3 separate regions of the Homo sapiens genome follow, and regions 1 and 3 are each linked to region 2. The links come from fine-mapping of genetic effects on gene expression. A gene starts in region 2. Each other region holds a variant in brackets. All regions are shown on one strand. Distances are from middle to middle. Region 1 has its middle 17 kb from the start of MYCL. Region 2 holds the start of MFSD2A (MFSD2 lysolipid transporter A, lysophospholipid). Region 3 holds the start of BMP8B (bone morphogenetic protein 8b).

Evidence for each region. PIP is the estimated chance that this variant, and not a neighbour inherited with it, causes the effect. A credible set is the group of variants that fine-mapping cannot tell apart.
Region 1: its variant is the best candidate, but not a certain one, in a credible set for the expression of MFSD2A in whole blood (TOPMed, PIP 0.77).
Region 3: its variant is the best candidate, but not a certain one, in a credible set for the expression of MFSD2A in whole blood (TOPMed, PIP 0.87).

What each region holds. Positions count from the first base shown.
Region 1 is chr1:39,913,859-39,924,416 of GRCh38, reverse strand. No RefSeq gene overlaps it. Among named protein-coding and RNA genes, the nearest start is that of MYCL, 17 kb to the right of the region's middle. The variant C/T (reference allele first, on the strand shown) is at 5,121.
Region 2 is chr1:39,949,167-39,959,724 of GRCh38, reverse strand. It overlaps MFSD2A (MFSD2 lysolipid transporter A, lysophospholipid), which reads right to left and starts at 4,580. Exons shown (of 14, transcript NM_032793.5): 1 at 4,340-4,580; 2 at 2,504-2,638; 3 at 900-1,024. The coding sequence starts at 4,432. RefSeq lists a silencer at 4,629-4,758.
Region 3 is chr1:39,778,500-39,789,057 of GRCh38, reverse strand. BMP8B (bone morphogenetic protein 8b) reads left to right here and starts at 193. Exons shown (of 7, transcript NM_001720.5): 1 at 193-906. The coding sequence starts at 573. It overlaps BMP8B-AS1 (BMP8B antisense RNA 1), which reads right to left and starts at 9,089. Exons shown (of 2, transcript XR_947220.3): 1 at 8,053-9,089; 2 at 7,634-7,820. LOC101929536 (a long non-coding RNA gene) reads right to left here and starts at 82. Exons shown (of 1, transcript NR_135805.1): 1 at 1-82. RefSeq lists enhancers at 1-87, 9,814-10,314 and a silencer at 1-241. The variant A/G (reference allele first, on the strand shown) is at 5,461.

The DNA of each region.
Region 1 (10,558 bases), 35 kb after region 2:
TAGATGTCTCAGAGCCAGGTGTGGTGGCTCACGCCTGTAATCCCAGCAATTTGAGAGGCTGAGGTGGGAAGATTGCTTGAGCCCAGAAGTTCAAGACCAGCCTGGGTAACGTAGTAGATCCCTGTAGTTCCAGCTGTTCAGGAGGTTGAGGTGGGATGATCAGTTAGCCAGGGAGTTTGAGGCTGTAGTGAGCTATGATGGCACAGCTGCACTCCAGCCTGGGCAACAGAGCAAGACCTTGTTAAGAAGGAGAAGGAGAAGGAGATTATTTCCAGAAAGCAACATTTTAAAAATCAGGCAATCAAGAATCATAACTAAATAAGGCTGGGCTGGGTGGCTCACACATGTAATCACAACACTTTGAGAGGCCGAGGAGGGCAGATCACTTGAGTTCAGGAGTTTGAGACCCGCCTGGGCAACATGGTGAAACCCTGTCTCTACCAAAATACAAAAAATTAGCCAGGCGTAGTGGTGTGTGCTTGTGGTCCCAACTACTCAGGAGGCTGAGATGGGAGGATTGCCTGAGCCCGGGAAGCGGAGGTTTCAGTGAGCTGAGATCACACCACTGCACTCCAGCCTGGGTGACCCTGTCTCAAAAATAAAATTAATGAATGAGACCCTGTCTCAAAAATAAAATTAAATTTAAAAAAATCACAACTAAATAAAATATCCGCCTTTCAAAATAAACTTGCTTTTCAGACCCTTGTAACAGGGAAATTGTCTAAGAGTTTTTTATTGTACAACTAACACCACTTTGCAAGAGGCTACAAATAATATTTAAAATAATGTATTACATTATTTTAAAAAGCCCCTTGCCCCCAGCATAACACTCTTTTTTTTTTTTTTTTTGAGACGGAGTCTCACTTTGTTGTCCAGGCTGGAGTGCAGTGGGGTGATCTCAGCTCACTGCAACATCTGCCTCCCGACTTCAAGCAATTCCCCTGCCTCAGCCTCCCGAGTAGCTGGGATTACAGGTGTGCACCACCACTCCCAGCTAATTTTTGTATTTTTAGTGGAGACGGGTTTTCACCATATTGGTCAGGCTGGTCTCGAACTCCTGACCTCAGGTGATTTGCCCACCTTGGCCTCTCAAAGTGCTGGGATTACAGGCGTGAACCACCGCACCCGGCCCTCTCTAGCATGACACTCATCAGCAACTTATATAACACAAGCATCTCAGATCTTCAATCCCTTCAAAAGAAGCCAAAATCTGAGTTTTAAATGAAATTTCATAACTTTTAAATGTTGACAATCAGTCCAGGCGCAGTGGCTCATGCCTGTAACCAACTCCAGCACTTTGGGAGGCTGAGGCGAGCGGATCATCTGAGGTCAGGAGTTTGAGACCAGCCTGGCCAACATAGCGAAACCCCATCTCTACTAAAAATACAAAAATTAGCTAGGCTACTCCGAAGGCTGAGGCACAAGAATCGCTTGAACCTGGGCGGTAGAGGTTGCAGTGAAATGAAATCACGGCACTGCACTCCAGCCTGGGCGACAGAGTAAGACTCAGTCTCAAAAAAAAAAAAAAAAAAAAAAATCAGACCTCCACGAATAAGTTTACTGAGAGTCTGAAGGAACTCCCCAAACCTCCATGATTTAGCAGGAGTATGGTCCCTGCGATCATGGACTATGTTTTTGTGCACTAACTCCTGCCGCAGCTCGATAACTGATGGATGCACGAATGAGTGGATGCGTGAATGAATGAAAGCCAGCGCAGATCTAGTATCCTCTGCCCGGTTAATACCTGTCTGAAAGCCGCGGGCCCTGCCCCAGCAGCGGATGCCAAGAGCGCGAGCCAGAGGTCACAGAAGCTCAGCGGGGAGCGGGGCTCGCACAATGCAGGTGCCGGCTGCTCCCTCCCTTCCGCCGCTTTGAGGCTCTAGGACAACCTTGGAGCCGCTTCCTGCGCGCAGCCTGGGGCCTGCGACGTCCGGCTGCCGACCCCCACCTCTGCCTCCTCCAAGCCACAGGCCTAGGTTGTCGGGGAGGATGGGTGGGGGTAGAAGCGCCCCTTGCTAGGCTTGGAACATCTGGCCGAGTCCTGGGCGGAGGGCTGCTGTCCAGTCCCTGGTCCACTTCCCGGCTGTGTGACTGGACACATCTGCCAACTGTGCTGTAATGGATTTGTTGCCTCCTAGTCCCGCCCCTCCTTCTGACACACAGGGTGTCAGAGTAGACCCGCACTCAGAACCGATTTGAATTCGGCACTCCCCATCCCAAGTATGAAAACAATAATAGCTTTGACATCATGGAACACCTTCTAGGTGATGGAAACGCCCAGCTGAGAGTTTTGCATGGATGATCCTATTTAATCTTCACCACGGTCAGGCATGATAAGCAGGAATCTCCCTATTTGACAGGTTAGGAGACAAGACCAGTTTGGTTTAGGTGCCTTTCTCAGGTCACACAGTTAGGGGTGGCGCAGCCTAGATGTGCCTAACTCCAGTGTCTTGCTTGTTCCTGGGTTTTCTGTGTGGCGGCTCCAATACTTAGGCCCAGGGACTTGAGCCAGGCCTGAGGATATGAACCGAGGTGGGGGCTTCCCTGCCCTTCATAAAGCTTCCTTTCTGATGGGGGATGATCGTTCTAGCACTGGATGATCACCAACCTTACTTCGTTGCTAGGCAGACAGAAAGGGATGCCTGAGCACTTAAGTATAGACCAATTTCCGGTGGATGGAACAGTTGCGCAAAGCTGGAGTCAGGGTGGGAACTTCCAGGTCACGTTCCTGCAACAACACAACAATGCTCCCATGATGCCCCCAACAACTTCTACCAGCTGAAATGGGGTGCTCCCTCCACAGGGATATCTCTGAGTGTGTCTGTGTCAGCAAGACCTCTGGAAAATTCCATGTCCTCCCCATAACACCTGATGTGGGGATGCCTAAGCAGCGATAGCCTGGCAAATGTTTAACAAACTGGAAGGTGGGCGGCAGGAGGTGGGGAACCCTGATTTGTAGCATTTGTGGGTTTCCATGAAGTAAATAATCTGCCATGACCAACTGCAAGCTACCAAAGTTGAAGTTGGGCCGGGCACAGTGGCTCACGCCCGTAATCCAAGCACTTTGGGAGGCTGAGGCGGGTGGATCACTTGAGCTCAGGAGTCTGAGACCAGCCTGGCCAACATGGTGAAACCTCGTCTCTACTAAAAAAATACAAAATTAGCCAGGTGTGGCAGCAGGCACCTGTAATCCCAGCTACTTGGGAGGCTGAGGCAGGAGAATCACTTGAACCCAGGAAGCACAGGTTGCAGTGAGCCAAGATCGCGCCATTGCACTCCAGCCTGGGCAACAAGAATGAAACTCCATCTCAAAACAAAACAAAACAAAACAAAACAAAACAAAAAATCAAAGTTGAAGTTGGACAGTAGCAAACCACTACATAGTACTTTCACCATAACTGATATGATAGGCAGATAATAGTAAAACATAATAAAATAATTAGGGATTGATTTTTATTTTATTTATTTATTTTTGAGACAAGGGCTCATTCCATCACTAGGCTGGAGCGCAGTGGCGCAATCACAGCTCACCGCAGCCTCGATCTCTCAAGCTAAAGTGATCCTTCCACCTCAGCTTCCCAAGTAGCTGGGACTACAGGCGCTCACCACTATGCCCAGCTGATTTTTGTATTTTTTGTAGAGATGGGGTTTCACCCTGTTGCCCAGGTGGGTCTCAAACTCCTGGGCTCAAGTCATCTGCCCACCTTGACCTCCCAAAGTGCTGAGATTATATGTGTGAGCCACCATGCCCAGCCAATATAGTTTATTTAAATGTAAATTTATATAGTTTAATTTTTACTTTATTAATTTTGTGCCCTAATTCCATGACACATTATAATTTTTATTTTTTAATTTTAATTTTATTTTTTATTTATTTTTTTTTGAGACGGAGTCTTGCTCTGTTGCCCAGGCTGGAGTGCAGTGGCATGATCTCAGCTCACTGCAACCTCCGCCTCCCAGGTTCACACCATTCTCCTGCCTCAGCCTCCCGAGTAGCTGGGACTACAGGCGCCTGCCACCACACTCGGCTAACTTTTTACATTTTTAGTAGAGATGGGGTTTCACCGCGTAAGCCAGGATGGTCTCAATCTCCCGACCTCGTGATCCGCCCGCCTTGGCCTCCCAAAGTGCTGGGATTACAGGCGTGAGCCACCATGCCTGGCCTTTTTTTTTTTTTTTCTCTCTCTTTTTTAAATTTGAGACATGGTCTTGCTCTGTCTCCCAGGCTAGAGTGCAGTGGTGCAATCATAGCTCACTGCAGCGTGGACCTTTCAGACTCAAGTGATGCTCCCATCTCAGCCTTCTGAGTAGCCGGGACTAGAGGTGCACACCACCATGCCTGGCTAATTTTTTGATTTTTTTGTAGAGACAAGGGTCTCCCTATGTTGCTTAGGATGGTCTCGCACTGGGCTTAAGCGATTCTCCCACCTGGGCGTCCCAAATTGCTGGGATTACAGGTGTGAGCCACCGTGCCCAGCTATAATTTAATATTTAATGACCAAGTTTACCAACCAGCTCTCAAGATTCCTGAAAATGCAAGAGTCAATTCTCACTAAGCTGATACAAGCCAGTTCCAGCACAGCACTGAACCTAGATCACTGGGTCCACTGGCTCCTGGGGCCGTCAGCTCCTTCTGTTTCCTCCAGCCTCAGGGCTCCCACGCATCTAGCCTGGGTTTCCCTCCCCATCTCTCTAGCCTGGGTTTCCCTCCCCATCTCTCTAGACTGGGTTTCCCTCTAGTGGACAGAATTGTTATTTCCAGGTGATTATCTTGCTCCACCTGTGCCCAGAGCTCAGCACCTTAAGAAGGGTGCGGAGGAAGTTTGTCATCAATCCTCCTTAAGACCTTAAGGGGCTGCTCTGCCTATGGAATAGCCATTCTTTTATTTCTTTGCCTTCTTGATAAACTTGCTTTCACTTCAAAAAAAAAAAAAAAGTACCTTAAAAAGGGTACATAACAGTCTCACAATTGCCCTCAAGCACAAGTCACTTAGTATTATGTCCCCGTGAGGGGGAGTGCCAGGAGGGCCTCCTTGGGCTTTAGTCATTATCACAATCTCCAGAGCTGCTCAGAAATCCCATCTCATCCTCTGTGTGGCAGCTCAGGCTGGCTATATTAG[C/T]CCTTCAGGTTTGGGGAATACCCCGCCTGACCCTGACCCCTGCAATTAATTAGCTCTATCTCTGAGAAGGTAAACTGGAAGATTCAGTTTGTGTTAGGAATCAAGCTCTCACACAATTCATAGCCCACTGGGGAAACACTGATGGAGGCCATTCATGTGTTGGGCAAAGATGAAACCATGGAGTCTGTTAGATGCAGATCTGGGGCTCAGGATGCTGCATCCTGCATTACACCAGGACTCTTTTCTCCCAGAAGTGATCTTTCCAAAGCACAGATATATCTGTCACTCTTCCGTTCACAAGCCTCCTATGATTCTCCAATGCTTTCAGCTTTAGTACAAGTTCCTTAGCCAGGCTTTGAGGGCCTTGATTGGGACCTTACCCAGATTGTTTACCTTAAATGTCCAGGCCAGGTGCGGCAGCTCACAACTGTAATTCCAGCACTTTGGGAGGCCGAGGTGGGCAGATCACGAGGTCAGGCGATCAAGACCATCCTGGCCAACATGGTGAAACCCCATCTCTACTAAAAATATAAAAAGTAGCTGGGCATGGTTGCATATGCCTGTAGTCCCAGGTACTTGGGAGGCTGAGGCAGGAGAATCCCTTGAACCTGGGAGGCGGAGGTTGCAGTGAGCCAAGATCGCACCACTGCATTCCAGCCTGGCAACAGAGCGAGACTCTGTCTCAAAATTAAAAAAACAAAAAGAAGAAGAGAAGAAAACTGACATTTTTGGAATTCTCCTCTGTGCCAGGCACTGTGCTAAAACTTTGCAGTTTAATTTAATTCTCCAATAATGCTGCTAGATAGGAAAAAACCTCTCTAGAGATGAGAAAACTAAGGGTCAGTACAAGCCTGCTCACCGTAACACTGCTTCAGAGTAGTTTTTCCTTCATCCTACTTCTGTTTATTTTTTTTTTTTTATTTTTTTGAGATGGAGTTTTGTTCTTCTCACCCAGGCTGGAGTGCAATGGCGTGATCTCGGCTCACTGCAACCTTTGCCTCCCAGATTCAAGCAATTCTCCTGCCTCAGCCTCCCGAGTAGCTGGGACTACAGGTGCCCGCCACCACACCCGGCTAATTTTTGTATTTTTAGTAGAGACGGGTTTCATCATGTTGGCCAGGCTGGTCTTGGAACTCCTGACCTCAGGTAATCTGCCTGTCTCAACCTCCCAAAGTGCTGGGATTACAGGCGGGAGCCACCACTCCTGGCCTGTTCTTGAAAGCTGCTGTTTTCTCTCTAAGCCTGGTCCCTTCCCCAGGTTGGCTGCAGAGGGAGACACAAGATCTCCTGAACCCCTTTTTCACTGAACTTAAAGCAAGGCCACATTCCTTAGGGTTCTAAGGAAAGCACAGCTTTGCAGTGAAACCCAAGCCAAGGTAACAGAGCCACAGATATAGGATAAGAAACCAGATTTTACACCTGGTTAATTCTTCTGGGGCCAGCTCCAGAGCCCTTCCTCTTCCTAACTCTCCCCTCCCTAAATCTTTTTTCTCCTCCTCTCCCCTCTTCACCTCCTTACTTCCACTAAAATCCTAGACATCTTATGGATCAGATCAAATTTCCCTCCTCCAGAAAGCCCTCTCAGACAACCTGGATCAGGAATCTGCCTAATGAAAATAAGAATTGTTGGCCGGGCACAGTGGTTCACGCCTGTAATCCCAGCACTTTGGGAGGCCAAGGTGGGCGGATCACGAGGTCAGGAGATCGAGACCATTCTGGTCAACAAGGAGAAACCCCATCATTACTAAAAATACAAAAATTAGCTGGGCATGGCGGCTCATGCCTGTGATCCCAGCTACTTGGGAGGCTGAAGCAGGAGAATCGCTTGAACCTCGGAGGTGCAGATTGCAGTGAGCCAAGATCGTGCCACTGAACCGTAGCCTGGCGAGACTCCATCAAAGGAAGGAAAAGAAAGAAATAAAGGAAGAGAGAGAAAGAGAAAGAAAGAAAGAAAGAAAGAAAGAAAGAAAGAAAGAAAGAAAGAAAGAAAGAAAAGAAAAGAAAAAAAAGAAAAGAAAAGAAAAGAAAAAAGAAAAGAAAAGAAATTGTTGCAGCTTAAAAGGAAGAACAGCCCAGATGCAGTGGCTCATGCCTGTAATCCCAGCATTTTGGGAGCCTGGGCAAGTGGATCGCTTGAGTCCAGGAATTCAAGATCAGCCTGGCCAACATGGTGAAACCCTGTCTTTACTAAAAATGCAAAATTAATCGGGTGTGGTTCCGTGTGCCTGTAGTTTCACCTACTCCGGAGGTTGAGGTGGGAGAACCGTTGAGCCCAGGAGGTGGAGGTTGCCGTGAGCCAAGATTGTGCCACTGCACCCCAGGCTGGGTGACAGAGCAAGACCCTATCTCAATCAATCAATAAATAAATGGAAGAACAAATTTCTGGCTAAATATGAAGATTGTTCACATGTGCTTATCTCCACTCCTGAAATTCCACTAAAATGACAGCAAGTGGATTAGAAGAAATTGTTTTAATTTACGAGCACACACACAAAAAAAGGAACGCCAGGCGCGGTGGCTCACGCCTGTAGTCCTAGCACTTTGAGAGGCTGAGGCGGGTGGATCACCTGAGGTCAGGAGTTCAAGACCAGCCTGACCAACATGGTGAAACCCCATCTCTACTAAAAATACAAAAAAAAATTAGCCAGGCATGGTGGTGGGCGCCTATGATCCCAGCTGCTCTGGAGGCTGAGGCAGGAGAATCACTTGTACCCGGGAGGTGGAGATCACGCCATTGCACTCCAGTCTGGGTGACAGAGCAAGACACCACCTCAAAAGAAAAAAATAAAGTCTAGTATCCAGTTTTATCCCCACTGACACTGAGCTCTGAGTGGCTCTTAAAAATATATAAAATTTTATAAAAAGAGTCTAGTATCCAGACTATATAATAAATTCTTACAACATGACAACAAAAAGACAACTCAGTTAAAAATGGGCCAGGTGGCTGGGTGTGGTAGCTCACACCTATAATACCAGCACTTTGGGAGGCCCAGGCAGGAGGACCCTTTGAGTCCAAGAGTTCAAGACCACCCTGGGCAACATAGAGAGACCTCCTTTCTACAAAAGATCAAAAGATTAGCTGGGGCCAGGCATGGTGACTCACACTTGTAATCCCAGCACTTTGGGAGGCTGAGGCAGGTAGATCATTTGAGGTCAGGAGTTGGGGACCAGTTTGGCCAACATGGTAAGATCTGGGTATCTACTAAAAATACAAAAATTAGCCGGGCATGGTGGCATGCACCTATAATCCCAGCTGCTCGAGAAGCTGAGGTAGGAGAATCACTTGAACCCAGGAGGCAGAGGTTGCAGTGAGCCAAGATAGAGCCAGTGCACTCTAGCCTGGGCGACCGGGTGAGACTGTGTGTTGAAAAAAAAAAAAAGATTAGCTGGGTGTGGTGGCTGGCCTCTAGTCCCAGCTACTCAGGAAGCTGAGGTAGAAGGATCACTTAAGCCCAGGAGGTAGAGGCTGCAGTGAGCCATGATCATGCCACTGCAGTCCAGTGTGGGCCATAGAACGAGACAATATCTCAAATAAATAAATAAGCAAGCCAGGTATGGTGGCACATGCCTGTGGTCTCAGCTACACTACTCAGGAAACTGAACGGGGAGGATTGTTTGAGACCAGGAGGTCAAGGCTGCAGTAAGCTGTGATGGTGCTACTGCACTCCAGCCTAGGTGACAGAATATGACCCTGTCTCAAAAAAAAAAAAAAAAGTGGGGAGTGACAAAGGATTTGAATAGACATTTATCCAAACAAGATATATTAACAGCCAATAAGCACATGAAAAGATAATCAACATTATTAGTTGTTAGAGAAATGCAACTCAAAACCACAAGAAGGCCCGGCACGGTAGCTCATTCCTGTAATCCTAGCACTTTGGGAGGCCAAGGTGGACGCATCATTTGAGGTCAGGAATTCCAGACCAGCCTGGCTAACATGGTGAAACCCTGTCTCTACTAAAATACACAAATTAGGGCTAGGCACAGTGGTTCATGCCTGTAATCAGAGCAGTTTGTGAGGCTGAGGCAGGCGGATCACCTGAGTTCATGAGTTCTAGACCAGCCTGGCCAACATGGTGAAACCCAGTCTCTACTAAAAAATACAAAAATTAGCTGGATGTGGTGGCATGTGTCCGTAATCCCAGCTACTCAGGAGGCTGAGGCAGGAGAGTTGCTTGAACCTGGGAGGCAGAGGTTGCAGTGAGCTGAGACATGCCACTGCACTCCAACCTGGGCAACAAGCGAGATTCCGTATCAAAAAATAATAATAGGCCGGGTGTGGTGGCTCATGCCTATAATCCCAGCATTTTGGGAGACCAAGGCGGGCAGATCACATGAGTTCAGGAGTTCAAGACAAGCCTAGCTAACATGGTGAAACCCTGCCTCTACTAAAAATACAAAAATTAGCCGGGCATAGTGGCACACGCCTGTAGTCCCAGCTACTCTGGAGGCTGAGGCAGGAGAATCACTTGAACCCAGGAGGCAGTGGTTGCAGTGAGCCAAGATCATGCCATTGCGCTCCAGCTTGGGCAACAAGAGCGAAACTCCATCTCAAATAATAATAATAATAATAACATAAAATAAATTGGTAAAATACAGAATTACCCAGCCTTGGTGGTGCATGCCTATAATCCTAACTACTCAGGAGGCAGAGGTGGGAGGATTGCTTGAGCCCACTAGAAGGCAGAGGTTGCAGTGAGCAGAGATCATGCCATTGCACTCCAGCCTCGACAACAGTGTGGGACCCTGTCTAAAAAAAAAAAAAAAAAAAAAAAAAAAACAAAATAAAAACAAAAACAAAAAAACCACAATGAGATACCACTTCCACACCCATTAAAGATGGCTGTAGTAATAATAATAATAAGCTCGAGAATAACGGGCAGGGCTGTGGCTCACACCTGTAATCCCAGCACTTTGGGAAGCCAAGGTAGGCAGACCACTTGAGCCCAGGAGTTCAAGACCAGCCTGGCCAACGTGGTGAAACCCCATCTCTACTAAAAATACAAAAAAAATTAGCTGGGGGTGGTGGCGCGCACCTATAATCCCAGCTACTCTGGAGGCCGAGGCAGAAGAATCGCTTGAACCCAGGAGGTGGAGGTTGCAATGAGCCGAGATCGTGCCACTGAACTCCAGCCTGGGCAACAGAGCAAGACTGCATCTCAAAAAAAGGAAAAAAAAAGAAAATAGAGATATTCCTCTCCCTCTCCGTCTCCCTCTCCCTCTCCCTCTCCCTCCCCCTCCCCCTCCCTCTCCCTCTCCCTCTCCCCACGGTCTCCCACTCCCTCTCTTTCCACGGTCTCCCTCTGATGCCGAGCCAAAGCTGGACGGTACTGCTGCCATCTCGGCTCACTGCAACCTCCCTGCCTGATTCTCTTGCCTCAGCTTGCCGAGTGCCTGCGATTGCAGGCGCACGCCGCCACGCCTGACTGGTTTTCGTA
Region 2 (10,558 bases):
TTAAGTCAGGCACTGTTCTAAGAACGTCAAAAAAAAAAATTAATCCACCACAACTCTGTGAGTGTGAGATAGGTATAACTATTATCCCCATTTTAGATGAAGAAACTTGAGACTCAGAGATGTGAAGTGACTCAGCTCTAAGTAGGGAAATTGGGATTTCAACCCAGACAGGGGCCGGGCATGGTGGCTCACACCTGTAATCCTAACACTTTGGGAGGCTGAGGCGGGAGGACACCTTGAGCCCAGGAGTTCAAGGCCAGCCTAGGCAATATAGTGAGACGCTGTCTCTACAAATAATAATTTTAAAAGATTAGCCAGGTGTGGTGGCACGTGCCTGTAGTCGCAGCTACTCGAGAGGCTGAGGTGGGAAGATCACTTGAGCCCAGGAGTTCTAGGCTGCAGTGAGTTATGATCACACCACTGCACTCCAGCCTGGGTGACAGAGCGAGACCCTGTCTCTAAAAAAAAAAAAAAGAAAGAAAGATAGAAAGAAAGAAAGAGAAAGAAAGATAAAAATAATAAAATAAGCCCAGGCAGGCTGGCTCCAGAGTACAACTGCTTAACCACTCTTAAGTACTACCTCGGCCACTGCAGGAAGTGATAGAGTGGGAGAATTCAGAATTCCAGCTTCACCAAGGGGAATGAGTGGACCCTGGGGAGGAATGAGGCCTGAGCTGCCCAGCCTAGCACTTTGGCTGTCCTGGAAATGAACTGGCTGAGCATGCCAGTGCCCGTGCTCAGGGTAGCTGATGCCTCGGATGGGGTTTCAACACCCTTGGGCTTTTAACTCCTTCCTTCTCCTCACCCTTCTGCCTGTGACAAGACAGAGAGAAGGACCAAGGAGCAGATATGCTGGAAGTCCTGCCTTGTGCCACCTCGAAGGGGCATATTCTACTCACCAGGGCATAAGGCGACCCAGGCAGGTCCAGGGGGATTTGCTGATGCAGAGGCCCACCAGGGGGTCTGTGATGGCATCCCAGGCTCGGCCCACAAACAGGATGATGGAGGCAGAGAAAGGGCCCACCTGGAATGAGGAGAAGCAAAAGACAACTTCCTCATCCTTCTACTCGCCTCAACTCTCACTGGTAGGCAGAAGCAGAGGCTCCCTCCCTATCTCAGCCAGGATCTTGTGACCCTGAGCTGCTCCCACATGGACCTTACACATCTTCACTTGCCTTGTTAATAATGACAATAGCATTTCTCCAATAACAGTAGCACTGGGTGCCTCCTTAGAAGCTTTCCCAGCTCTGTCTCCTTAATTGCTTCCCTCCACTGCCCTTGAAAACATTCCCATCAATTCAAATGAATCCACAAACATTTCCTTCCCTCCCTCTCTCAGCCCTGAGCTCCTGACCACCTGATATCAGAATGAGCATTCACGGGGTGAACACAGTGTGCTTCAGTGTTCCCATCTGTATAATGGGAGTTATGAGCTCTACCTTACAGGTTCAAGCTCTATCTTGGATGTGGAAAAAGGAGCCTATAGATGCTTTTTAAAAAGGGACTTGTCACTACCCACTCAAGTTATCCCCCTCCCCGCCCCAAAACCCCCCAGGCCCTAAATACAGACTCTCCAGACTCCTCCTTATCCATCAAAGCCCTGCTATTGCTATTTCTCTGGGGAGTGGGTATTCTTCCCCATACCATAGTCTCCCTAGTCTAACCCCCCAACCCCAGCTCTAACACCCACTACAACAGGTTTACACTTTGACTGCAGGTTCCTCATATTTACACCCCACCCAAGGCCCAGCCCATGGGAGTTACTCAAAAATTAGCTGCTGAAGTTTTTTGTTCCTTCTGGAGTTCAGTGTTCCCCCTCTGTAAATGGATACAACTAAGATGCGATGCTTGCCAAGTTAGATGCTACACAGAGAAGACAGCTGGTGCAGGAGCCCCGGTAGTCATGGCTATTCTGCCTCCCACTCTCCCATCCAGACAGGGTGAATTCTCAGGATGCCAGGCTTCTGGCCAAGGCTTCTCAATGCACAGAATAGTCCTGTTTCACCCTAAGTACCCCTCCCAGTCAAAGACCCTGTGTACTGGGGCATTCTAACTTAGCCTGGCACCTAAGTGCCCTTCTGCTCCTCAGGTAAAGGTGGGATGCATCTCATCCACAAGCCTGGCAACAGCCACCAACCCCTGAGTCAAGCCAGCTGACTATCTCCCAGCCAGGAACACAGTGTGCCAGTCTCTTCTAAGAACAGCATCCCCAGCAGGCCCCATTCTCCCTCATTCTACCGCCTACCCCTTCAGGCTCTGTTGCTCATGCCAGGCAAGGAGGAGTTGCCAGACCTTTCCAGCAAAGACTCCTGGAGTGGAGACACTCCTTTACTGGATACTTTCCAGGGTCTTCTCATTTCTTGCTCACTGACTCAGAGGCAGCAAAGTAGTGATTTGGGGTCCCATTTCACAGATGGGGAAAACTGAGCGAACTGACCCAGGGGTGCATAGTCTTTCCCACCTCAGGATGCTGAAGGAGCCCTCGAAGGCTTAGACCACTCACCTGAGCCACATCCAATAGGTAGATCTGAAGGAAGAAACCCAGGGCACAGCCCGTCACCTGGTAGGGGGCTCCCCCAAGTGCATAGCAAAGCTTGTTGCAAACAGACAACTGTTGTTTCTTCTTTTTCGGTTCTTTCTGGGAAGAGGAGGAAAAGATGAAAGGCCCAAGGTTCTGGCCTCCATCCAAGAAGGTTCCACAGGAAGGACCATCCCTCTGGCCAGCTCTACCAGAACAAACAACTCTGCTTTGACCTGTTCCTATCCAGGAGATCCCACCTTTTTTTTTTTTTTTTTTTTTTTTTTTTTTGAGACAGAGTCTTGCTCTGTTGCCCAGGCTGGAGTGCAGTGGTGCCATCTCGGCTCACTGCAAGCTCCGCCTCCTGGGTTCACGCCATTCTCCTGCCTCAGCCTCCCAAGTAGCTGGGACTACAGGCACCCACTACCACACCCAGCTAATTTTTTGTATTTTAAGTAGAGACGGGGTTTCACCATGTTAGCCAGCATGGTCTCGATCTCCGAGATCCCACTTTATACAAAAGAAAGGTGTTCTCCATTCTTAGGAACATGGAAAAGGGGAATCCATACTTGTGTGAAAGTAGCCCCTAAGCCACCTCCCTCCTGGAGATTCTAAGGAAACTTATCAGCCCACCATCCCTAAAGAACTCCTCCCAAGGCCTCAGGCACTGCTCCTTTCCAGGTTTCAGGGGGAGCATGCTCCAGCAGCCGACCTGTCCCCACCCGGCACCAGCTGCCACAACCTGAAAATCCGCTTGCTGCCAAGAGCTGCCTGAGCCCAGCCCAGGCTCCCACCCTGCCTCAGAGACAGGATCCACCTGCCTACTCCTGGTGAGAGCTCTAGAGAGCTACGGGGGCCCGGCCCAGCTGGCTGCAGGCGCAGCTGTTCCACCTATCCCAGAGCATCCCTGACCACTATAGGCAGCCAGAGCTTCAGGCGGACCCAGGAACTGTCCTACTCTCCAGCTTCCCGACCCATCGCCCTCCACCCCTGAGCTCCTAGAGGACCTTGGAGACGGGAGGAAAGGCCTCCAGGTTCAGGCCTGATCCCTCTCCGGGTGGGGCACTAGGGAGGTTGGGTTGCCCAGGGAAAGTAGATATTACTCATACATAGTAACAGCATAATTGCTCACCCAGCTCCTTCCAAAGATCAGTTAATAAAATTAAAAGGAAAAGGCAGTCACCTCCCACGAAGGTATCTATTGCCTGAGATCCTTTCCTAGGGGGCCGCCTCATTTTATTTGGTCCTTCAATAAGTCCCCAGGGCTGGGGATGTGGTCGATGGTCTCGATGCGCAAAGCACCGTTCCCGCGCGAACATCCACATTCAGACAAATGCCTGAGGGACGCGGCTCCTTTAAGAGCAGAGCTCTTGTTCTTATGAATGAACTTGAGCGGCCCTAACAGCAGAGTTGAGGCGCAAGAGTAGGTGGGTGGAGTGGGAGGTAGGGGATGAGAGATGGGGAACCAAGGGGAGTTTCCCAGATTTCTGGGGTCATCTCTGGGGTTTGGGGCGGCAAGCCCCAGCCGCTCAACACGGAAGAATGGAAACCGGCTAGGCAGAGCGGGGAATCACATGGGGCTGCCGGCAGAGCCTCTCCGCAGAGCGTGGAGTGCGGGTGAGCAAAGGGGGGCGAGGGCGCCCACAGCTTTTCTCCGTCACCCCCTGTCCCAGGGCACCCCCAGGTCCTCTCTGGCTCGTAGGCTTCCTGTCCCTGGCTATCCCAATGGTCCCCTGACCAGGCCGACCCCGGGACGCCCCTGATCCCCCATTTCCGCCTCCTCCCTCCCCTCGCCCTCCACGCGGGGTGCCGGGCCCTCACCTTCACCTGGGCCGGGCGTTCAGTGCTTTGGAGGATGCTGGTGGGTAGCAGCCCCGCCGCGGAGCCGCTCTCGGCGCCTTCTCCTTTGGCCATGACCCGCGGGCCACGCCGCTTGGGACCTGGTAGACGGGATGCTCCTCTGCCCCGCAGGCCGCTGCTCCTCCCAAGCTCGCTTCGTAGCAGCCTTAGCCACGGCCGCCGCGCGCTAGCCAAGCCGGCTGGCAGACGAGGAACGCACTCTGCTGCACGCCCCCTCCGCGCCTCTTATAGTTCTGCCCAGCCCTCTCGGTTGCGGCCAATCCCCGAGCCCCGCTGCCCCGCCTCCAGCCAATCCCGTCGCCCGCCTCCCTGCCCCCGCCTCGCCCGGCGGCTCTGTGCCACCGAGCCACGTTCTCCAAGCCCCGGAACCGGCATCTGCCTGCGCTGGCTCCTAGCAATCCGAGAAGCAGGCCGCGAGACCTCCCAGACACGCGCGAGGAAACCGAGGCCCCAGGCTGAAAGTGATCTGCCCGGGGTCCCCGATCTGCCCGAGGTCCCCGAGGTCCCCAAGGTCCGACTCTCCCCGAGTCGGGCCTACCACCCATGACTTCTGAGCCCCAGGCCTAGGAAAGGTAGGGGCTCTGAAGCCCACTTTAAAATCTGGAGTCAGGGCCTCTCTCCTTCTTCAAGCCTAGAGGACGTACGCTGACACTTTCCCTCCTGATGCCTCTCTCTCATCCCCGAAGACACACCATTCCCCCGTCCTGCCCTTGGCATCCGGGCAATGGGGAGAAAGATGAGGCAATCCAGTGGCTGCCCCTGCCAGAAGGGAGCTCCCAAGTCGTGGAGAGAAGCCGGGGCTACGCCCGCTAGTACACTATGACAACAGTGGCCTTTTTATGGATAGCTTCCTCCATGCTTAATATGATCTCTTTCGGCCCTCAAAAACCACCAAGTGAGGGTGGTACTATTATTATCCCCATTTTACAGCACAGGAAGGGGAAACTTGGAGAAGTGAAGCAACTGTTATGTAGCAGAGCCAGGCCTGAAAGGTTTTGTCCGATACCAAAGCAGTTGCTCTCAACAGCCCTGCTCTATCCCTCTTAGCATAAATTACAGACGGCAGAATGGGGTGTATGTGTCTCCCAACAAGAAGCCCTGGGAGATACATGGCTCCAGAGGCACTGAGGGTTGAAACAGGGAAAGTTTTGAAAAAGAGAATGCCCAGAAATGTGGTCCTCAAAAGAAGATGGGAGGGCATTAGTTTGGAACAGAAGGCAGGCACGGATGCCAGAAAAGAACAGTCTTTAGTTCCACCTCTGAGTCCCTTATGTCAATGTCACCCCGGTCTTTCCAGTTCTCTGATTAGTGAAGGGGCTGCTGGAACTCTCAAAGGCTACCCACCCGGTTCCTGTGCTCCTTAATGTCAGCCTCCTTCTTCCTTTCTTTAAATCTCTGATTGCAGGGAGGAGAGATAAGGTCTATCTGCCCCAGGATGGTCACACCATGCTCCCTCATACGCCAGCAGATCCCATCTGGGCACACAGCTCTTGGCCATTGCTGAGCAGAAGAGAGCCAAAGTGAGGCACTGAATACTGTGGAAAGGGAATGGCTGGCCCCATTACTCCAAGCTGTGTGACACTGTTCTGTCTCTTTTCCCCTCTCCAGGCTTGGTTAGCTAAGCTCCCTTGCAGCCCCCAAATCTTCTCTCCCACAGTCACACCATACCACAAGTGATCTGTATCCCCCGGTTGACAATGAGCTCCTCAGGTAGGAACCGCATCTTTTTCACTTCTGTGTCCCCACCAACTAGCTTAGGGCCTGAATTATTGTGTTCAGTGAATGAATGTTCAGTCTTCCCCTGCTAAGGTACAAGCACACAGAAACCCATTAGGAAAAGCCCTAAGTGTCTCCATTTACTAGCTGTGCGGCTGACTCTGAACAACTCAGTTAACCTCCCTGTGTAAAATGGTGATATTAATAGTAGCTACTGGCCAGGCACCCTGGCTCACGCCTGTAATCCCAGCACTTTGGGAGGCTGAGGTGGGTGGATCACGAAGTCAGGAGTTCCGGACCAGCCTGGCCAATATGGTGAAACCCTGTCTCAACTAAAAATACAAAAATAAGCCGGGTGTGGTGGGGCACACCTGTAGTCCCAGGTACTCAGGAGGCTGAGGCAGAAGAATCGCTTGAACCCAGGAGGCGGAGGTTGCAGTGAGCCGAGATCGTGCCACTGCACTCCAGCCTGGGTGACAGACAAAGACTCTTGTCTCAAAAAAAAAAAAAAATTAATAGTAGCTACCTAATAGATTTGTTTTGGGGATGAAACAAGAAAATGCACAGGAAGCATTTAGCACAAGTGCCTGGGAGCTGAAGCTGGGCTGGTCCCCCTCCTGGCCTGATTCCAGTCTGTCAGTGTAGCAACGCAAGATTCCAGATATGGCCTGACCAAGCCAGCACAATAGGCCTATTATTTTTTCCAGTCTGGATGCGACACATTGTTAATGCAGCCTAAGACTGCTGGGCTTCAGAGCCTTTCTCTCCCATGATTAGTTCCCATCAGGTTGTGGTCAACTAAATCATTCAGATCCTTTTCACCGGAGTTGGGGTCAAGTCAGGTCTCTCCCCGATCCTCTGCTTTCTGTAATGTCTTGAGGCTCACAACAGAACAATGTCATCTTGCTTATTCCAGCCTGTCGAAATTGTTGTGGATGCTGGTTCTATGGCTCACTGTTTTCTCTCACTCTAAATTTAGATCTGGCTGTCCCTTGCAACTTCAACTCCACCAGCCATGTTGTTGGTCAGGACAGAGCCCCATAACACAGCACTAGAGACACTCACTGTCACCACTAACTGAATCACGGCACCGCCAATACAACAGCTCCCAAATACCAAGCAGCCACTGGTATGCTGGGCAGCGTGCCCCATAAGTGCTTTAAATATACTATCTCATTTACTTCTGTTTTTTTTTCTTTATATCTCATTTAGTCCCAACAACACCACTGGAGAGAGTTGTTTTTATTACCCTCATTTTATTTATTTTTATTTTATTTTCTTAGAGATAGGGTCTTGCTCTCTCCTCCAGGCTGGAGTGCAGTGGCACACACGATCATAGCTCACTGCAGCCTTGAATTCCTCAGCTCAAGTGATATGATTAGGCTTTGTGTCCCCACCCAGATCTCATCTTGAATTATATCCTAATAATCCCCATACCCCCACAATCCCCACATGCCAAGGGAGAGACCAGGTGGAGGTGACTGAATCGTGGGAGTGGTTTCCTCCATGCTGTTCTCATGACAGTGAGTGAGTTGTTACAAGATCTGATGGTTATATAAGGGGCTCTTCCCCCTTTGCTCAGCATTTCTCCTTCCTGCTGCTTTGTGAAAAAGATGCCAGCTGTGTGCAGTGGCTCACGCCTATAATCCCAACACTTTAGGAGGCCAAGACAGGTGGATCAGTTGAGGTCAGGAGTTTGAGACCAGGGTAGTCAACATGGTGAAACCTGTCTCTACTAAAAATACAAAAATTAGCTGGGTGTGGTGGTGCGCGCTTGCAGTCCCAGCTACTTGGGAGGGTGAGGCAGGCGTATCACTTGAACCCAGGAGGCGGAGGTTGCAGTGAGCCGAGATCACACCACTGCACTCCGGCCTGGGCAACAGAGCGAGACTGTCTCAAATAAAAAAAAAAAAAGAAGAAGATGCCTTGCATTCCCTTTGTCTTCTGCCATGATTGGAGTTTCTTGAGGCCTCCCCAGCCATGCTGAATTGTGAGCCAATTAAACCTCTTTCCTTTATAAATTACCCAGTCTCAGGCAGTTATTTATAGCAGTATGAAAACAGACTAGTATATTAAGCAGTCCTCCTGCCTTAGCTTCCTGAGTAGCTGGGACTACAGGCATGTGCCACCATGCCTGTCTAATTTTTAAGTTTTAAAAAAATTGGCTGGGTGCGGTGGCTCACGCCTATAATCCCGGCACTTCAGGAGGCCGAGGCAGGCGGATCACAAGGTCAGGAGATCGAGACCAGCCATGACCAACATGGTGAAACCCCATCTCTACTAAAAATACAAAAATTAGCTGGGCGTGGTGGTGTGTGCCTATAGTCCCAGCTAGTCAGGAGCCCAAGGCAGGAGAACCCAGGAGGCAGAGGTTGCAGTGAGCTGAGATCAGCCAAAAAAAACTTCTGAGAAGACTGGATTCAGAGAGCTTCTGGCTAGCATGAATACACAGAGCTTCCTGAGGGTAATGTCCCAGCCAAGGCATGGAAGCTCCACAAGCCTTCCTCCGTATCTCACCTTATGCATCTCTTCATCTTTATCCTTTGTAGTATCCCAAACCAGTCAACATGGGTGTTTCCTTGATTTCTGTAAATAACTCCAGCAAATTAATCCAACCCAAAGAGGGGATCATGGGAACCTCAATTTGAAGCCAGCTTGTCAGAAGTTCCAGAGGCCTGGCGTTGTGACTGGTGTCTAGGGTTCAGGAGACAGTCTTGGGAACTGAGCCCTCCACCTATGAGATCTGATACTATCTCCAGGTAGGTAGTGTTGGAATTGAATGAGAGGACACCCAGCTGGTGTCCACTGTTTAGTGTGTGGGGGGAAAAAAGAAAACCCATACCCGTGGTCAGATCATTCTTCTATGTTGGTGATTGTGGTGATGGTGGTGTGACAGTAGAGGAAAAACACAGTTTGAGAGGTTTTTCCTAAACAACTGGTGTCAGGAGTGGGATATTCTGGGCTGATCCAGGCTCAAGGAAACATGTGGTTTGGGAAAAGAAAGTACAAAAAGATGAAAGATGAGGAACCTTTGATTCCTGGGTGGCCATGTGCTCACCCATAGTATGAAGCCACAGGGACACACGTAGTATGTACCTAGATTAGGTACTAAAAGTCAAAGATACCAGGGAAATTTAGAGATGGCTCCAACTCCCAGGGAGTTGATTGACTACATGCATAAGGAAATGCAAATTAATAAGAAAAAAAAGCTAAATATTCAGTTCCTTGGTTATTATCTGTAATGGCTAACGTGAAATTAAAAGAGAATGCTGGGTGAGACCTTGGTGCTAGACCAGCTTAGACCTCAATCAGTCTGAATTTAGGCCACCAGCCTCAAAGCTGCCCCCACAGGGCAGAATTATGCAGAGACAACAGAAAGTACTTCTAAGACTTGTGTTTACCAAGAAAGTAATCACTGTGGGAGGAGGGCAAAACCAAGTAACTATTGAAACCAGAGGGCATAGTGTGAAGGAATTATTCCATTTTGTAGATCCTTATCATCAGCTTCCTGAGGAACTTTTACGAAAATGAATTCTGTGAGTAAGTAGTTTAGGAGCAGGATCTTTGGTTTTAATTGCTGCGGAGTGGAAGAGCCTGTTTGGGTTGATGCAGGACCCACAGCTCACTACTGAACAATGGCAGATGGGTATATGTGATTCAGACACACAAAAGATGTATTTCTGAGGGAATGACCAGCCTTGGACTGGTTTTATCCAGTGGACTGGATAAAAGCCACTATAATATCTATTTACCCTGAGAAGCGGGGACTGTCCAACTCCACCTAGAAATGCCAAGGGGACCACCCCAGATGAAGCAGCCCATATGCTTCATATGCAAGCCATATGGGACTGGCTTTATGATGGCAGGGACATTCACCCACTGAAGATGCCCATTACCCAAGTCATGCTAAGTGCTGTGGTTAAAGGAGCCTCTTCTACACTGGCACCCCATGTAAGCTTACTCCTGCAGAATCAAACAGCAGTTCAAATTTGCTGTCTCAGCTTCCATTCATGGGTCTTAGAGATGCTAATGAAAGCATAAGGTTAGTTAACAAGAGAATGAGAAAAGGCAAAAGGTAGAGTCAAAAGACTCATCCTAAGAAGACTGAAATTTTTAAACGGTTATTAAGAAATAAGATGAATAAAGAAAACATTTAGCCAGACGTTGTGGTTCAGGCCTGTCATCCCAGCACTTCGGGAGGCCAAGGCAAGCAGATCGCTTGAGCCCAGGAGTTTGAGGCCAGCCTGGGCAACATGGCGAAACCTGTCTCTCCAAAAAAATATTAAAAATTAGCCGTGCATGGTGGCACGTGCCTGTAGTCCCAGCTACTCAGGAGGCTGAGGTGGGAGAATCACCTGAGCCTGGGAAGTCAAGGTTACAGTGAGCTGTGATCACACAACTGCACTGTAGCCCAGGTGACAGAGTGAGACCCTATCTCAAAAAAAAAAAGAAAGAAAACATTGA
Region 3 (10,558 bases), 170 kb after region 2:
AGCCCCTCGCCCGGGCCGCCTGCCCACCCGCCACGCCCAGGTAGCACCTCGGGGTCTCCCCACCCGCGACACCGGCCGCAGCCCCGGGCCCCCTCGCAGGCGTGGCCCCCGCTCCCAGGCCCCGCCCCCGCCCCCCCATTGGTCAGTCCCGGGGTGGGGGCGGGCGACGCGGACCGCTGGGCAGGGCAGGGCAGGGACTCGCGGGAACCGCACCAAGCGGGTGGCTGCAGGAGCTCGCCCATCGCCCCTGCGCTGCTCGGACCGCGGCCACAGCCGGACTGGCGGGTACGGCGGCGACAGACGGATTGGCCGAGAGTCCCAGTCCGCAGAGTAGCCCCGGCCTCGAGGCGGTGGCGTCCGCGTCCTCTCGTCCAGGAGCCAGGACAGGTGTCGCGCGGCGGGCGCTCCAGGGACCGCGCTGAGGCCGCGGTCGCCGCCCGTCCCGCCCCGCCCCGCCGCCCGCCGCCCGCCGAGCCCAGCCTCCTTGCCGTCGGGGCGTCCCCAGGCCCTGGGTCGGCCGCGGAGCCGATGCGCGCCCGCTGAGCGCCCCAGCTGAGCGCCCCCGGCCTGCCATGACCGCGCTCCCCGGCCCGCTCTGGCTCCTGGGCCTGGCGCTATGCGCGCTGGGCGGGGGCGGCCCCGGCCTGCGACCCCCGCCCGGCTGTCCCCAGCGACGTCTGGGCGCGCGCGAGCGCCGGGACGTGCAGCGCGAGATCCTGGCGGTGCTCGGGCTGCCTGGGCGGCCCCGGCCCCGCGCGCCACCCGCCGCCTCCCGGCTGCCCGCGTCCGCGCCGCTCTTCATGCTGGACCTGTACCACGCCATGGCCGGCGACGACGACGAGGACGGCGCGCCCGCGGAGCGGCGCCTGGGCCGCGCCGACCTGGTCATGAGCTTCGTTAACATGGGTGAGTGCGGCCGCCCGCGCGGGGACCCTCGGAGTAAGCTGGCTGCAGGGGAGGGGCGCGCATCCGCGGGCTGTGCCGGGCCCTGGCCGAACGGGGAGTCACAGACGGTGGACGCGAACCACAGGGGAGTGGGACCGCCGTGGTTAGGGAAGGTCTAAGGGTCATGGGGGCCCCCTGGGCTGCGGGGTGGTCAGGAGCAGAGTGTGGGGGACTGTGGACTCCCAGGCGCTGCCTTCACCCTGCCCCAAACACACCCAGGAGTAAGAATCAGGTGATGTCTTTGCCCACCTGGGCTGCCCCGGGAAGACAGCCTGGTCCTGGGGAGACAGGTGAGTAAACAGAGGCCGGGATGCTGTCACTGTGATAAGGGCAGTACTGAGGAGAGGGACAAAGTTCAGCGTGGAAACCTGTGGTCACATCGGAGTGACCAGAGCTGAGTCGCGTGCCCTGAGTCCACAGCAGGCTCTTCTCTGTGCGGAGCCTGGGTGGGGTGCGGCTGTCAGGGGGGCGGCTGGGGAAGGAGCAAACTCAGCTCGCTGGGGCAGGGACTGTTGCCTTGTCACCCTGGGCCCAACACCTGGGATGTGATCTGGTATGGGGTGAGTGTCCAGTCCTGTGGAATGGTCCAGTGGGCAGCTGGACCCACTTTGTTCTCCCAGGCAAAGCCCGGCTTTTCCTGTCTGCAAATATCTTGTATCAAACCCTGGAGCTATTTATTCCCTAAGATCTCAGAGATTTTTTTTCCAGTACTAAACTCTTTGGTCTATGGTCATGTAGTTACTATTGGTCAGGTCACCCATCTGCTTTGCCTCCTGTCTGTGGCTAGTGACAGTCTGGGGTCTGGGGAACCAAGGACCACAGATCAGCCCAAAGTCGGGGAGCTGTGGGGCTGAGAGGAGGGAGAGGGTCCCTGGCCCCGGCCATCAGCCTCCCTCCACAGACAGCATCATTAATTCTTCATCCTCCCGACAACCCTGATAACAGCCACGGTCTTCATCCCCATCTCCCAGATGAGGACAGTGAGGCTCAGAGAGGCAGCGCCATGCCTAGGACAGCGCAGCCTCTACGCTGCTGAGCCAGGACAGGCCCAGGAAGCCTGACTGTCCATCCAGGGCTCAAAGAGATGACATTTCTGTTGTCAGGTCAGGCTTTCAAGGTGCAGAGACCTTTCTGAGGAGTCTGGGCTGAGGAAAACAGGGGACTGAGCCGCAGCAGGTTTTGTGGGGCCATCAGCCATTTGCTTCCTACACTAGGACAGAAGAGGGCATGGCCAAGCCTCTGCTTCCCGCAACCCAGAGCTGGTGGTGGAGGCGAGCAGCAGGAGGCAGCCATTCACCATCACTGAGCGCCCAGTGCCAGGGACAGGACTCTAGCCGGTGGGATCTGGATGCTGCCTTTGTAGTTAGAGGACAGGGTGGGGATGTGGGACAGAGGAGACCATCTGTGAAGCTGGGGCTGGGGCTCTGTCATCAGGACAGGCTGACACTGGGCTCAGGACCAAGAAGAGTTGTGGATGGAGTCGTCCAAGAATGTCCCCAGGGAGCCGCCCATCAGAATGCGTCACCACCCAGCCCACATCCGACCTCCCCTGGCATCCCCTGGGTCAAGGCATGCACAGCCTGGTGGGGCTATTGCTATGAATTGGGCAGGGCCTACCCCTCTGTGTGACCTTAGGAAAGTTCCTCACCCTCTCAGCCTTCGTTGCTCCTTGTAAAATGAGGTGCCTGGTGATCTGTCCTCAGGGTTGTTGTGTGATTGGTAGAGGGGCAGGAGTAGAAAGCCTGTGCTGCTCCCCTCAGAGGGTGAACCTGGACCTGGGCACTGTTGGCCCCAGGCCCTCCCAGCTGTGGCCTAGTTCGGAGGTGACAGGAACATCTCCACATGTCTTATACACATGTAAAACCTAGAAATGGATTCTAAAAGCCAATCAAAAAGTGTTTGTACCTGTTTTTAGAATGAAAAGTAGCATGTGAACTTTCACAGCCTTACAATTCCTCATTTAACTCATGTGAGACTGTTTTGCCAGCCCTGTTTCATGGGCTCAGAGAGGTTAAATAGCCAGCCCAGGGCCACACCGCACATCCGGGGTGACATCCACGGCTGTGGATTTCAAATCCCAGCTTCTTCCCACACCAGCTTTGTGCATTTCATGAAGACTTGGGGCCTCCAGCGCTGCGAGATTAACAAGCAGATCATTGTTAGTGGAAGCCCAGGCTGTGGGTGGGCGCAGCCAGCTGTCAGAAAGGCCTTCTTTATTCTGCTGTGCTAACTGCACTAGTAGAACTCTCTCAGTTAGAGTAGCTTTAACTGGTAATTACTGAGGCTGGGTGGGGCGGTGGGGGGGCATGGATTAGACACATACCAGGATGCTCTCCATGTTTGGAGGCCCCTGGAGGTTGGTGGCCCTTCTCCTGCCTCAGCCTCCCGAGTAGCTGAGATTACAGTCATGTGGGCAGAGGCCACCACGGGATCTAATAGCAGGGTCACTGTGGTGTCACCGCCCACACGCAGGCTCCCACACCTGCTCCTGCCGGCTCCACCTCTCCTATCAGCTTCATCTGACTCCTGAATAGCCAGGTCTGGTGCCCGTAGGGCCCAACTCTTGATGGCAGCCTGTGGGACCCAGGGGGCGGGGCTCTCATAGGCCTCCCACCATGGCTCAGGTCTCCGTGCAGAGCAGGTGCTTTAGGAAGCCAAGCCTGCGTCCTGATGTTCAGAGCCTGCACTGGGAGGCCAGGGCTGGGGTCAGAGCCGGGGCCCTGCCTGGCCTGTCATCCATATCAGCCTGTAGACCTGGGCTCTCTTGGGCAGGACAGTGATGGAGCGGTTGGATTCTGTCCCTGGTCTCTCTGTGCTCAGGGAGGGGAGAGCCCTGAGCTGGGAGGCAGGACCCAGGTTCTTGTGCTGCCTGGGCCCACCATTAACTCCTGCATGTCCTGAGCCACGGCCCTTCCCTTCCCTGGGCCTCTGCTTTCTCGTCCATTCTACGGTGATGGCATCAGAAAAGCAAGGTGCCTCCCAGCCCTGACCCTGTGGCTCTGTGGCAGAGGCGCCTTCTCACAACACCGCCATGCCTTGGCCCCAGTGCCTCAGGGCAGCCCGGCCCCTCCTGAGGGAGGAAGGATGGCAGGAAGGACCACCTCTGCACACTCCTTCTGAATCCTTCTCCACCCATCTCAGCAGAGAGGCAGGTGCCCATGTTCCAGATTGAGAAACTGAGGCATAAGCAGGCCTAGCAGGCAGAAGTCCAGCCAGGATCAGAATGCAGGCAGCTTCATTTTTGTCCTGATCCCTTCCTGAACCAGACAGATTTGCTCCTGTGGTCTCCGGTGGCCATGGACAGGGGTGTTGATGAACAGAGCCGTCTGGATTTGGGAGAAGCAGGACTGAGTGGGAATTCGGGACCTGGCCCGGGTCCTGCTCTGCCCTTGCCAGCCGTGTGACCTAGAAGGGTGGCACCATCTCCGTGGGCCCCAGGGCCACTTCCTTTGGTTCTTTACCAGGGACCTCTTTCATTTTCCCATTCATTCATTCAGCAAATAGTTCTGTAGCACCTACCACGGACCAGGCAGAGTTCTAGTTGCTGGGGATATAACAATGAGAGAAGTAAAGTCCCTGCCCTCAGGGAGATGACTTTCTAGTCTAGAGACACATAATACATACATGAGCCCTAAAGGTAATTGTCGGGTGTGCTAGACAGCAACGCCCCATCGGGAAACAGGAGGGGCTGAACAATGGCAGGACAGACAGGGCTAGATTGGGGGTTTCTGACCTGAGACCCACACACAAGGAATTTGCATCCTGACGCCAACACCTGATCTCAGTGTGATCTGGGCTTTCCAGTCAACCTCCCCAAGCCTCAGTTTCCTCCTCTGTAAAATGGAGATACTCATCTTATGGGGCTGTTGTGGGCTTGTGTGAGATGATACCCAGCGATGCCCACGTGCCCAGAACCTCTGCATCTCTTCCTTCATTGGTATCTCACAATTGCCGTCACATCTGTGTTTGAAAGAGAGGAGAGAGAGGCTCAGAGCAGATAGGTGGTTTTCCTAAGGCCACACAGCAGATTGTCCCCCTGCCTCCACATCTTCTGCTCTTCTCCAAAATAGCAGCTGCCTCTCCACACAGCCCAGGGCCTGGCCCACCGTTAAATGCAGTGTGTGCTGCTGAAATGGACTGTGTTGAATGGGAACGTGTGATGTAAACTGAGACTACTGCTTAAAAAATATGTTTTTATTTTCAGAGACAGGGTCTTGCTCTTTCACCCAGACTGGAATGCAGTGGCATGGTCATAGCTCACTGCAACTGCAAACTCCTGGCCTCAAGCAATGTTCTCACCTCAGCCTCCTGAATGGCTAGAACTACAGGTGTGCACCACCATGTCCAACTAATTGCTTCAAATCTTTTGTAGAGGCGGGATCTCATTATATTGCCCAGGCTGGTCTCAAACTCCTGGCCTCATCTGATCCTCCTGCCTCAGCCTCCCAAAGTGCTGGGATTACAGGCATGAACCACTGTGCCCAGCGTTTTCTTTTCTTTCTTTTTTTTAACTGC[A/G]TACGTTAATGCTCACTGTTTTGCAACTTTGTTGTTTTTCATTTAACAATAAATCTTTTATCCATCTTAAAAGTCAACTATTAGGGTGACTGTATGCCCAAAGGTATTTGTCCTTGCAATAATTGAAGGTGGGTCCCTTTTCCCCAAAGTTCTGTCTGGCCACCAGAATGGTGCACCCTTTCCATCCCTAGTGACTGGTCCTACCCATTTCCGCAGTGTTTTCTCACCCCTGAGTAAATGATTATGACTGCCCTCATTCACAGAGGAGGAAGCTGAGTCTCAAAGAGTGTAAGTGACTGGCCCCGGGTCCTGGATGCACAGACCCACAGGAGCAGATATGAAAGGTAGATCACAGCTGTAGGAGGGTAGGCCCTGGAAGTGGGGCAGCAGAGTGGTGGTTAGTGACCCTGGAGTGGGGCTCACTGGCTTTCAATTCTGAGTCTACTGCTTAAGAGCTATGAGCTGTTGAACAGATCATTTAAAGTCTCGGCATCTCAGTTTCCTCATCTTTAAAACTGGGATAATAATGCCTGTATCCGGCCAGGTGTGGTGGTGTGCGGATCACTTGAGGTCAGGAGTTCAAGACCAGCCTGGCCAACATGGTGAAACCTTGTCTCTACTAAAAATGCAAAAAAAATTAGCCAGGCATGGTGGCGCGGGACTGTAGTCCTAACTACTCAGGCGGCTGAGGCGAGAGAATTGCTGGAACCTGGGAGATGGAGGTTGCCTGGGAGACAGAGCAAGACTCTGTCTAAATAATAATAATAATGCCTGTATCATAATACAATGATTAAATAGGTTAAGGCACATAAAAACCTAGCAAGTGTCTGGCCAGGCACGGAAGCTCACGTCTGTAATCCCAGCACTTTGGGAGGCCAAGCGGGGGCGGATCACCTGAGGTCAGGAGTTAAAGACAAGCCTGGACAACATGGTGAAACCCCGTCTCTACTAAAAATACAAAAATTAGCCGGCTGTGGTGGCAGGCGCCTGTAATCCCAGCTACTTGGGAGGCTGAGGCAGGAGAATTGCTTGAATCCAAGAGGTGGAGGTTGCAGTGAGCCGAGATCGCGCCATTGCACTCCAGCCTGAGCAACAGGAGCGAAATGCCATCTCAAAAAAAAACAAAAACAAAAACAAAGCAAGTGTCTGGCACTGCTCAATAAGTGGCTGTATTATGAGGGAAGGGCCTGCGGATTATGCCCCATCCCCCAGTCATTTACTTAGGGACCTAGAGCAGAGTAGTAAAAAGCATAGCTCCAGAATCTGACCAGGCTGCCTGGGTGAGATCCTCATTCCACCTAGGCATCCTTGTAGTGGATGCTGTGGGGGGCTTCCCAGAGCTTCTCTTCAGCATTGAGTCGCTCGTGACCCAGCTGCCTGGAGTGCCGGCTGCTGACAGCTCACAGGGGAGTCCTTCTCTAGGTTTTTTTTGTTTTTTTTTTTTTTGAGATGGAGTTTTGCTCTTGTCACCCATGCTGGAGTGCAATGGTGCGATCTTGGCTCACTGCAACCTCCTTGGGTTCAAGCAATTCTTCTGTCTCACCCTCCCAAGTAGCTGGGATTACAGGCACCCGCCACCACGCACGGCTAATTTTGTATTTTTAGTAGAGATGGGGTTTCATCATGTTAGTCAGGCTGATCCTGAACTCCTGACCTCAGGTGATCCACCCACCTCAGCCTCCCAAAGTGCTGGGATTACAGGCGAGAGCCACCACGCCCTACCCTTCTCTAGGTATTGATTGACTGGGCCTAAAGAACTGCCCAAGGTTAGGCACCATCCCTGGGGACACCCACCATCCAACAGCTGGTCTATGGCAGTACCAGTGCCCAGCCCCCTTGCCTTAAAGAGAGACAGCTCTAAAGGGCCACCAGCCCCCAGAGCTCCCAGTGTGGTCTCAGTTGTCTGAGGCCTTTGTTGTGGGTGCATCCAAAACTTGCTCCCTTCATTCACTACAAAAAGCAGTAAACTTTCCAGTTTTCCCAGTAAACTTTCCGACCCAGTGTCTGTTGCCCAGAGAGCCTAACCTAAGATACAATTTACACGATTATGGTCTAATTTATTTAATGCTCTGAGCCTCAGTTTCCTCATCTGTAAAATGGGAGAGCTACCTCATTAGATGATTAGGAGTATTAAATGAGTTAATCTGTGTAAAATTATGAAAAGAGTGGCTGGTCAGTGCTCAATAAATGTCAGCTTTATTTGTTTTTAGCCCAAGGCCAGCTGGTTAGTGGCAAGACCAGAAGCAAAAGTTGGTGATTTCCTTTAACTGCTGGCTCTATCTTGAGTAGCAGCCGTTCCTTCTGAACAGTCCTGGACCCTGCACACATCAGGGTTCTGGGGAAGTTGATGGCTGCAAGACCTGGGTGTGGAGAAAGTTGACTCATTCAGGGCTTTAAGAGCAGTCTATGAACACTCCTTAGCAAGCACTGCTGCAAACCTACTGTGTGCTGTTCCTCTTCCTGTTTATCTTGGGGGCTAATAAAAGTATAGCCCCAGCCCAACCCAAAGTCTGCTCATTTACTGAGAAAGAGAAGCCCAAAGACAACTCAATATAAATGATCCCCAAATGGAAGAAATGTCCATTCACCCACCTGGCAAACATGGGTGTGAGGGTTCAACAGTTCAGAAGACCGACAAGATCCTTCTCTCGTTTTCTGGGAGACAAACAAGGCCAAAGGAGAGGAGGCATGGCTCCCGGCTGGAGATGGGGTCTCGCTGTGTCACCCAGGCTGGAGTGCAGTGGCGCGATCACAGCTTGCTGCAGCCTCAACCTCCCAGACTCAAGTGATCCTCCCACCTCAGCCTCCCAAGTAGCTGGGAAGTACAGGTGCCTACCACCATGCCCAGATAATTTTTAAACATTTTTTTATAGAGACGAGGTCTCATGATGTTGCCCAGGCTGGTCTTCAGCTCCTGGGCTCAAGCCATCCATCCACATTGGCCTCCCAAAGTGCTGAGATGACAGGCGTGAGCCACTGCGCCTGGCCTCTTGCATGTTTTTGAAATGCCAGTTCCTGAAGTGAAAATCCCATCATGGCTTTTCCTGCTCAGGAGCTTCTGTGTGTCCCTTCAAGCCAGAATGGAATTCACGTTTCCCCAGCCTGGCATTCAGAGTTCAGCGTTCTAGTCAACTGCACCGCTTGGTGCTCCCTTGACATATCTGCAGCTTGGAGAGGTCGTGGATTAGGAGAAGTGAATGTAGACTTTGGAGTCCAGACAGACTTTGACCCAAATCCCACCTTGGATGCTTCCAGTTGTGGCCTTGTGCAAATCAGTTAACTTCTGGGATCTTTAGTGCTCTCATCTATAACCTGGGATGAATAATGTCCCCCACAGTGTTGTCATGGTGCCGCCTTCACCATGGCCCTCGATGGTCCCACTTCCTGAGATGCACAGAGTTCTGTGTCCCCTCCAACACTGTGCCAGTGCTGGTCTGTGTGACCAATAGAATATGACACTAGTGGTGATAGGTCCCTGCCAGGATTAGTCTATAAAAGACCATGGCTTCCATCTCTCGGATGCCTCGTTCTGGGGGAGGCCATGAGGTGAGCAGCCCTATGGAGAGGGCCACATGGTGAGCAGCTAAAGACAGCGCGTGGAAGTGGATCCGTCAGCCCCAGCTAAGTCTTCAGAGACTGCAGCCCTAGCTGACAGCTTGACTGTGACCTCATAAGAGACCCTGATCCAGACCTACCCAGCTAAGTTCCTGGATTATTAGCCCTAAGAACAATGTGCAACAATATGTGTTTGTTGTTTTAAACTGCTACATTTGCATAATGAGTTACACAGCCACAGACAACTAACACAGTCAGGTTAGCATGAACAGAAAGGACGTACCACGTGTGCCCAGCATGGTGCCTGACACAGGTCAGTGCTTAAAAAGTGTGACCTGGCACAGCATCTCCCGCCTCTCAGCCTTTCCCTGGGTGACTCTTCAGTTCTCTTCCTCAGTTCTTCCACCCCTCTTGAATATGTTTTCAAGGAAAGTTTTCTCTGCCTCCTTCTTCCAAAGCCCTGTATGTGACTGCGACCGTCACTGAAGCACCTGTCCTGCATTGTGTGCACTTCTCTTAGGATTCCAGTCGCTTTCTGTCTATGTGATGCAGGGGCTCACCTAGCCCCTCTTTCTCCTCCTCCCCAGCAACCTCTGAACAACCTGAGAATAGGGACCAAGTGTGACTCTTCCTGGCACCCCCCATGGTGCACCCAGCCCCTGAGTGGCAGGAAATTGAGGGAAAGAGGAACCCAGCAGGAGGCAGCGAGTGCCAAGAGCAGGGAGGAGCCTGGGTCTGGTCAGGTGGGACAGAGTAGGGCCGGCCCTCCCTGTCTGTGTGCGGGCCGACAATGGGTGCCATAGCTCCCTGGGCCCTCCCCTGGAACCCCAAGTCCCCACAGGGCCCTGCCTGGAGGAAGGTGGCTTCACGGGCATTCTCGGGTGTCTGTTGATAGGAGGGCCTTGTTGACGGGTGACCCCCATCCCAATATGTCCCATTGAACTCCAGGGCCACTCATTTCACACTGGCCCCAAGTGTGAACATCCACATCACAGGCCTCTAATCTGACACGGGCCTCTAATCTAACCCTGGAAACCCTCTGTCCCTCCTTGGCCTCAGTTTCCCCATCTCTGCAGGGTTGCCTGAAGGCCTTTCCAGGTCTGACCAAAGAATGTGCCCACCCCCTGCCTGCTGATGGGGGCTCTTCCGGGCTGAGGCACAGGGTGGGGAGGTGCACCCAGCCCCCCTCCTCCCGGAACCTCTTTCCCATAGGCAAGAGAGGATGCGTCACCATGACCACTTCTTTCTGGAAAATTCCCACAGTTCATTCTTTCCCGGGATTTCACTGGAGGAATTGCGTCTTTCTTGCTTACATCTCCTGGGATCTATTCTTGGCCTTGGCGGGCTTGATGTGGAGGCATGTGTGGGTGTTCCCTTTTAATTTGGGGTCCAGAACTGTCTGAGGCCTGGACCGGTAATTATGAGAGCAGCACCATTTATGGAAACAGCCCTTGAAGCAAGCCAGTGATGAGACCCGGCTGGAAATACCTCAGCATGGAGCCCTGGGCTCGCCTTGAGGCGGTGCTGAGATTTCTGGGTGGGA